Regions from separate parts of the Homo sapiens genome. Here region 2 is linked to region 1. A link means that fine-mapping ties the variant in region 1 to the expression of a gene that starts in the linked region. Tissue or cell type: whole blood. Region 1 holds a variant in brackets; the other region holds the start of a gene. Each region is shown on its reference strand, or each on the opposite one.

What was found.
Region 2: it holds the start of MRPS34, and the variant in region 1 is fine-mapped to the expression of MRPS34 in whole blood (TOPMed, PIP above 0.99).

What each region holds. Positions count from the first base shown.
Region 1 is chr6:54,766,248-54,770,632 of GRCh38, forward strand. The region is part of intron 1 of LOC107986606 (a long non-coding RNA gene); the gene reads right to left. It also overlaps the pseudogene KRASP1. Among named protein-coding and RNA genes, the nearest start is that of FAM83B, 78 kb to the right of the region's middle. The variant A/G (reference allele first, on the strand shown) is at 1,990.
Region 2 is chr16:1,771,155-1,775,539 of GRCh38, forward strand. It overlaps MRPS34 (mitochondrial ribosomal protein S34), which reads right to left and starts at 1,980. Exons shown (of 3, transcript NM_023936.2): 1 at 1,645-1,980; 2 at 1,450-1,492; 3 at 741-1,359. The coding sequence starts at 1,965. The coding sequence ends at 1,067. NME3 (NME/NM23 nucleoside diphosphate kinase 3) reads right to left here and starts at 389. Exons shown (of 5, transcript NM_002513.3): 1 at 335-389; 2 at 126-256; 3 at 1-17. The coding sequence starts at 380. EME2 (essential meiotic structure-specific endonuclease subunit 2) reads left to right here and starts at 1,656. Exons shown (of 8, transcript NM_001257370.2): 1 at 1,656-2,320; 2 at 2,551-2,687; 3 at 3,106-3,198; 4 at 3,887-3,978; 5 at 4,161-4,254. The coding sequence starts at 2,074. RefSeq lists silencers at 135-724, 1,595-1,734, 2,095-2,194, 2,225-2,534, 2,545-2,654 and 1 more and enhancers at 1,025-1,114, 1,905-2,044, 2,902-3,690.

The DNA.
Region 1 (4,385 bases):
CATAAGGTTATGTGTATATCAGATAAAGCTTACATGTTTATATACCTATTATTCATTAATTTATGAAAATTATTTATTAATTTCCAGCATTTATCATCTCATTAAGTGGCACCAGGATCCACGGAGTTACATCTATGATAACTAAGCATCTTCAAGTATCTCTTTTTCACAAAACTCATAACCATCCCATAACCAAGACCTATTATTTTTCTCCTTAAGCATCTCTTTAATCCACCCATTATTATTTTTAAAATTTTCACTGCCATCAAAGTCCAAAACACAGCCAAGTCTTACCTGGACCATTGTAGTAGCCATTGAACTATTTTTTTCTCATTCACTCTGCCTTCCCCCAACCCAGTGTACATACTACAATCAGAGTGATCTTTAAAAAGACAAATATGATGTCATCTTCACTGAAACTCTTCAGAAATCTCTCATTGCTTCTAGGATTAAAAAAAAATTGACTTGGCATACAAGGTCCTAATTCTCCAACCTCATCTTGCAATTTTTTTTGTTTTTTTGTTTTTTTAGACGGAGTCTCAGTCTGTCACCCAGGCTGGAGTCCAGTGGCACGATCTCGGATCACTGGAACCTCCACCTCCCAGGTTTAAGCAATTCTCCTGCCCCAGCCTCCTGAGGAGCTGGGATTACAGACGCAATCCACCATGCCCAGTTAATTTTTTCATTTTTAGTAGAGACGGGGTTTCACCATGTTTATCAGGCTGGTTTCAAACTCCTGACCTCATGATCTGCCCGCCTTGGCTTCCCAAAGTGCTGCGATTACAGGCCTGAGCCACCATGTCCGGCCTCATTTTGCAATATTCTATCCCTTCTCTCTGCACTCTAGCCATACCAGCTCTCTTTAAATTTCCTGAACTTGTCACATGGCTTTTGTACATATTGTCTACAAATGTATATTTGTACATATGCACACATATACTGTCCATATGTATAAAATGTTAAATACATAGTTCCACCTCCTCTCATTCCTCTCTGTGAGTGCCGTGGACTGCAGTTGCTTCTAATTTGCTATCTTGGCCTCTCCTCAACTAAAATATTTTTTAACTTCCAATGGGTTTATCAAGACATAACCCCATTGTAAGACAAGAATATCTGTACTGTACTCAAGAATTTACTGTTTATATCTTCCTTATGTTCATACAAAAAGATATAAAACCCAAAACTGATTACTGATTTTTAGCACATGATCCATAATGCTATCTTATAAAAAGGAGTAAAAATGTAATTAATTTGAACTAAATTTGTTCAATAATAGCCCAACCACAATACATGTTAATTTATTATAATCTAGGAACCCGTAATTTATATACACTGAGGTAATTGCTACTGTTTCTCTAACCAAATCAATAAACCGTCCTCCACTGTTAGGCCTATGTCCTGGAAACTAATCAACTGGAGTTACGTGTTAGTCTGTTTCTTTCTATGTTTATTTGAATATCTGGTGCATATAAAGATGACATGGTTACAAATTTTCCCATTTGAGATATCAATAGCTAGAACTGTTTTTTTCTTTTATCTTACAGTCAAGCTTTGAGCATTATTTTCTAGGTTCTTTACAACTCTTGTATTAGTTAACAAATAAAAAGAATCCAGTAAAATGCCTGAGACATTGAAGGTGCTCAATAAATGTTATTTACCCAACTAACCTTACAAGCAATTTTAATTTACCTTAATGTTTTCTCAAATTTTCCCATTATTATCCTTGTCTTATTAAAAATATAAAAAATCACAAGTGCCTTTATTTTCTTTTAAAATTTTTTAAATGCTTATTTTTCTTTGAAGTAATCTACAGAGAAAAATAACTTGCCAATTTGAATAACTCTGACAAAGATCTTAAGCCCCATCTTTAGGAGCCAAACAACAGTGGCAGAAAGAGACATGAAGTAAACAATGACAAAAATACTACAATAAAATTATGCTCTGTGACCAGAAAGATCAATAAAGTTTTCTTATTTAGGAGGGTTAGCA[A/G]AGTGGTATTTATGTTATTTACAGGAAGACAAGGGGGGTAAAAAGAGATACCAGGAATATGCACAAAGAATGTGACATATTCCAGAATATTTAAGCACCTGACCCAGATGGAGTTTAGAATGAATGGCAGGGGTAGATGGGATGAGGCTGGGTAGGCAGGCACATGCTAGATCAGGGAAGTCTGTGTATTTGCCTTAAAGGAGCAGAAAAACATCAAAGGATTTAAAGGATACAAGCAATGTGATGAGATTTGGCTTTTTGAAACCTCACTGTAGTTGCGGCAGCATGGTGCTTTCATTTAATAAGGCCTCTCCAAAGAGAAAATGAGGGCAGTTTAAGAGCTATATAATTTACAGTAAGTCATATGACAGCTATCACTAACAGTGTATCAATTTACTGCTTTTTACAATAGAGGAAGAGAGCAAGCCTTGGATTAGTACACTAATGAAAACTAACCTTTTCCCCCATAAATGTGAAGATTGCATAGAGAACAATTATGTCAGACTAATACAATTTATTTCTATGATGTCATCTATCTGGGCTTGAGTAAGGACTGATCCAGTTCCAGATGGAAATCAAAATAACAAGCTAGACTGATACAATCTAGAACACTCCACCACTGAGAGAAAGAACATGAAATTAGAGGAAGGGTTGATTATTTCTGTTTGGAAACAGAGGGTAGTGGGTGGGTGATCTGCCTATAGCTACTGTTGTTTAGTATCTTTATTCATCAATGTTTGAGTGCTTACCTATTAATTTTTCATATGATAAAAACTTTGTTGAACTTGACTACTTGAAAAAGCAAACATCTTTACATTTTTAATGCATATTATATAGATGAAAGTACAATGTAAACAAATGAAAAGCAATATGTGAAGAAGAAAACAAACTCTAAGTAAAGAAAAATTGTATCAGAAAAGTTTAATGTGTTCCTGGGGCCATGAAGATCCTCAGGTATATACATGCGTTCATGAATTAAGTTATGCTGGTAGTTTAACATGCACGTATTTTGCTGCAATGTGCAAATAAAAGTATGTAAGAAATTTAAATGATTCCTCTTAAAGGAGCATTTCATCCTACTCAGGGAAACAAATTTATTTTGACCTCATATTTCAACAATAATACTGTCATAAACCCTTACACTTACTAAATTAATCCTCATAATAACCCTATAATACAGGTACTACTGTATCTCATTTTAAAGATGAGGAAGCTGTTGGCCGGGCATGGTGGCTCATGCCTGTAATCCCAGCACTTTGGGAGGCCACGGTGGGTGGAACATTTGAGATCAGGAGTTGAGACCAGCCTGGCCAACATGGTGAAACCCTGCCTCTACTAAAAATACAAAAATTAGCCGGACGTGGCAGGGGGCTCCTGTAATCCCAGCTACTTGGAAGGCTAAGGCAGGAGAATTGCTTGAACCTGGGAGGCGAATGTTGCCATGAGCCGAGATCGCGCCACTGCACTCCAGCCTGGGCGACAGAGTGAGACTCCATCTCAAAAAACATAATAAATAAATAAATAAAAAAGATGAGGTATTTAAGTGACTTATCATAGTCACTAGTAAATTGTGGAGTAATTTCAAGATCTAGAGAAAAAATTTTAGCAGATAAAGATTTAAAGCAAACTAAAATTATTAGAAATAGGTCCGGGACATTATTTATTGCCACATTTAAATACTCACTACGAGAATACAATAGCATTAGACATGTCAGGAATTTTATAAAGCATGATCAAAATTTGATTTGATGTAATGCACAGTAACATGTCAAACATATCAGAAATATTGTTTAACAGTGACCTAGTAAGGATGATTTTGACCCAAGTTGTTATTTGAAGAGAAAACTGGAGACTATTTCTAGCAGCATATTCTTTTTCCTCTGGAGACCTTTCACATGCCAACAACCTGACAGATGATGAAGAATGCATTATGACAAAACTGACCTAAAACTTTCAATAAGATTCACAATGTCATTCTTATTTGCAATGCTTTTTAGGTACTACATTGCAATTTAGAAAACAATGACTCCAGGGAGAAGCATGGTCTACTATTTAGTGCATTGTGTAACATTAAGATCTACTGAAATTTGCTGGTTCTTTGAAATAAAATGAATCTTTAGTGTTTGACATTATCCTGCATCATAAATTCCTAAGGAATGGAATGAGCTTTGACTGCCTTACCTTGAGAATAAGCATATTCACGTAAAGTATATAAGACAAATACTGGTTTAGATGAAGCTGGGCCAGTACTCCCGGCCTCCGCCATTTCGGACTGGGAGCTCCGTGGCGCAGGCACTGAAGGCGGCGGCAGGGCCAGAGGCTCAGCGGCTCCCAGACCTGCTGAAAATGACTGAATATAAACTTGCGGTAGTTGGAGCTGGTGGCGTAAGCAAAAG
Region 2 (4,385 bases), not on the chromosome of region 1:
AGCAGCTCCTCGGAGGCCTGCGGAAGGGTCAGGCCGCCTGCGCCCGCACCCGGCACCTAGGCGTCCCCAGGTCCCCGCTCCCCTTCCCCCCACACCGCGCCCCCGCTCGCTCACCGCGCCCCCACCTGCACCAGCTTCAGCGCCACCAACTTGAAGCCCTTCCTCTCGAAGCGCCGCACAATCTCGCCCACCAGCCGCCGCTGCACGCCGTCCGGCTTCACGGCCAGGAAGGTGCGTTCGTGTGCGCCGGTGCAGGCTGCGGGGCAGGCGGGGACGGGCCGTCAGGCCGGCCCAGCACCGGCCACCCGCCCCCGGCCCGCGCCGCGCGGCTCACCCGCGGGGAAGAGGTTAGCGAAGATGGTCAGCACCAGGCAGATCATGATGGCGGTGCGGGAGCGGGATCCGCGGGGCGGGGCGGTGGCGCCCGGGGCGGGGCCTGCGCTTAAAGAGGCCTGGTCGGGGCGCTGCGGCCTCCGCGGGGAGGCTGCTTCACTTGCACCCCGGAACCCGGCAGCCGTGGGGGGCCGGAGGGCAGCTGCGGAGGCCAAGTCTCCTCCAGCAGCTCGGACACTAACTGTATCCCCCACAACCCGCCCAGGTGGTTCCACCCACGCGGCGCCCTGCTCCGCACCGCCCGAACCCCGCCCCCCCCGCGCCCCCCCGGCCAGGGCCACGACCACAGCGTCAGCCCTTCTCTCCCCGGTCCTAAAGACAGAGCGCAAAGACACCACGACCCTGGGTACTTCTTTTCTCTTTATTCCCTTTCATAGCTTCTGCCGGGATCCAGGCAGAGAGAGCACTAATGGGGGAAAGGGAGCGAGCGCTTCCCGCTTTCCCCAGCGTGGGCCCTCGGAGTTGGGTGTGGGGGCAGCAGGGCCAGAGGAAAGGCACAGGTGGCGATTTGCCCCAGCCCTCCCCCCTAAGATGCAGACCCTCAGAACACGTCGCGGAAGGTGAGCTCCCTGCTCCGAGAGGCAGACTCGGGTGTAACGCAAAGACGGTTTCTTTCATCAATAAGGTCCCCACTGCCTCACAGCCCCTAAGGCCACCCGCTGGTTCTGGCATTCTAGACGGGGGTGCCCTTGGCCCTTCCTTTGTCTTCCTGTTTTGCAGGGTAATCCCAGGGTTCCATGCGTATCCTCTGCACATTCAGCATGGGCTCCTCGGTGCTTGTGTCTCCATTTTTCTGTCGTTCTGCGATAATCATGGCCCGGAGGAGAGGCGGGTACGGCACGGAGGCCAGGCTGTCTTCCGGCGCCGGCGTGAACGCGGTGAAGGCCTCCTCCTCGTGCTTGGGCACCAGCCGCCAGTCATGGTACATGACGTGTTCGATCTCCCGCGCCTCGCTCTCAGTCTTCCCTGATGAAGAAAAAGAGGCGTCTGCACACACTTGCTGTGCCGTCGGCGGTCGGCATCGAACTGCCGGGCACCCGCTCTCCCGAGCCTTACCTTTGAAGGTCAGGATGCCCCAGGCCTTCCCGTGGTCCAAGTTCTGCAAAGCCAGAAGGAAGCGGGGTCAGCTCGCAAAGCTCTCGGCCCCCGAGGTCAGGAGGTGGGAGCCTCAGCCACGCAAACCTGCAGGGAGGAGGGGAGGCGGGGAGACCAGGCGGCTGCAGGGGCGGGGTGCGGACGGGGTGCACGCACCTGCGCCGTGTAGTCGGGCCGCACCCGCGTGAGGCGCCAGTAGCACGGCTCGTCGTGCTGCCACAGCCAGGACTTGCGCGTGACCAGGCGGCCCAGGCCGAAGAGCGGGAGGCGGCCGAGCAGCTGCAAGAGGCGGCTCTCGCGGCGCACGTCGGCCCAGGCCCGGACCGGCAGCCGGCGTCCAGAGAACGGCCGCGTCAAGGTCTCGTAGTCCACCGCGTAGAGCTGGGAGTCGCGCGGCCTGTTCAGTTGCTCCCGCAGGGCGCGCACGCGGCGGGCCAGCTCCGCGATCAGCCGCGGACGCACCTTCTTCCGCGCCATGGCGGGTCCGCGTCCTCAGCGGTCCGGCCGGAAGTCACCGGAAGAGGCCGGTGTCCCAGGCTAAAGTGTTCGGTCGCGGCCGGAAGCGAGGAAGAGGTCGGTCCGGCCATGGCGCGGGTTGGACCCGGGAGGGCGGGGGTCTCTTGCCAGGGCCGGGGCCGGGGACGGGGCGGGAGCGGTCAGCGGCGACCTCCAACCTGGGAGATCTCAGACTCCGACGCTGAGGACTCCGCCGGCTCGGAGGCCGCCGCGAGAGCCCGGGACCCAGCGGGTGAGCGCAGGGCGGCTGCCGAGGCGTTGCGGCTGCTGCGGCCGGAGCAGGTCCTGAAGCGCCTCGCGGTGTGCGTGGACACAGGTGCGGCGGAGGGCACGGGCGATACTCGGGGTAGGAAAGGCCTTTCTCCGCCAGGCGGCGCCCTCTGTCCGACTGGGCGGGGCGCGCGTGCCGAGGGGCCTGGGGCCGGGCCCGCCTCCCAGTCGGGGGTTTGTGCCGAATGGAGACTCCCCGGTCCGGCCACCCGCCCAGGTAGGGCGCTCGCGAGGGTGGAAGGAAGCAGTGACCGCGCTCCTCTCCCCCGGTCCCAGCCATCCTGGAAGACGCCGGTGCCGACGTCCTGATGGAGGCCCTGGAGGCCCTGGGCTGCGAGTGCCGCATCGAGCCCCAGCGCCCGGCCCGCAGCCTGCGGTGGACCCGAGCGAGTCCCGACCCCTGCCCCCGCAGCGTGAGTGGTCGCGGGTTCCCGAGGGCCAGCCGCGAGTTGGCTGTTTTGCTTCCATGATTTCAGCCCTGGAGCTGTCCCTGAGGCAGCTGCCCTGGGCCGTGCGCGTCTCGCGGATGGGTAAAGCAAGGATGGAGAACGGGAAGTGGAGGTGCCCAAGCCGTTCTGCTGGTATAGAGCCGAGCTGGCTGGAGAAGGTTCCGTCTCGATTCAGGCTGTGGTCTGGATTCCTGCCAGCCACAGAGACCTGGCCTGAGCTTGGCCTTGGCAGGAAAGGGAACACTGGGCTTCTGTAGAGCAGGCCTGTCAGGGCCTGGGCTTGGCTGGGGCCACGAACCGCTTTGCTGCTGGACTGCCCAGGCAGGGCCCCTGGGGCACCCGGGGTTGAGACAGGCAGCAGCGCGTCCCCATGTCCCCACAGCTGCCTCCTGAAGTGTGGGCTGCAGGTGAACAGGAATTGCTGCTGCTGCTGGAGCCCGAGGAGTTTCTGCAGGGCGTCGCCACACTGACCCAGGTGCTCGGGTGGTGGCAGTAGTCCCTCTCTAATCAGGAGGGGTGGGTTCCCAGCCGGGAGGCGCCTGCTCCGCCGGTCCCTGCCCCTGTAGACGGGGCTGGAGGGGGCATGGGGCAGGCCAGGACTCCTCTCTGATCCAAAGCCGTAGAGGTTTCTAGGGTGAGATGGAGAAAGCTCCTGGGCACCTGCGGAGGCTACAGCTGCTCCTAGAGGATCCTGAGAAGTGTCAGGAGGCCGGGGTCCGGGCAGTAGGCTGCAGGCTTCGTCCTCTGACAGCAGACAGCCTGGCCCCTGCCTGCGGGGAGCAGTGCTCAGGTGCTGTGGTGCCAGGTAGCGTGGGGTTAGGCTAGACCCCCTGCCAGGTCCCTGTGTCCCAGGATCAGTGTCTCTCAAGCTGCTGCTTTGTGCTAGGTCAAAGCTAGGCTGGAGTACAGAGGTGGACCAGGATGAGGGGCTCAATGGAACTGACATGTGCCCGAGCAGCCACTCCAGGGTCTCCTTAGCCTCTTTGGCCTCGTGGGAGGCACAGAGCTGGTTTTCTCAGAAGGGGTAACGGAACAGAGGCTCCTCTCGGCACCACTGGCTCTTTTTCAGGCTTGCTGTTCTGCAAACCAGCTGTGGCCTGGTGGCCCATGGCCATAGGCCGCAGCCTCCTGTGAACAACTGTGCCACACGTTCTCATCTTCAGATCTCTGGCCCAACCCACTGGGTGCCCTGGATCTCCCCCGAGACCACCGCCCGGCCCCACCTGGCTGTCATCGGGCTGGATGCCTACCTGTGGTACCGCTCACTCTCATGCCCACAGCAGGGCTGGCTGGGACGGGGGTTCAGGGGAGGTGGGCACACTTCTGGGGTTGCTGTGGCACAGCTGATCCCACTTCTCCAGGTGGGCTCTGGCAGAGGCCAAGCTCGGGCAGGGCAGGCCCCATGGGGAGCGGGGAGGAATGGTCACCTCTGCTCAGGTCTCGCCAGCACGTTTCCCGGGGGACACAGCAGCCAGAGAGCCCGAAGGTGGCCGGTGCCGAGGTGGCCGTCAGCTGGCCGGAGGTGGAAGAGGTGAGGGCCTGTCTGAGCTGGGTGAGTCAGGTGGCCTGGGTCCCAGTGATTGGGCTGCTGGCTGGGTTTGGTTCCCAGCGTGGTACATGGGGCAGCTATCAGCTGTGTGTCCCGGGTAGCCTTCCTCTGGC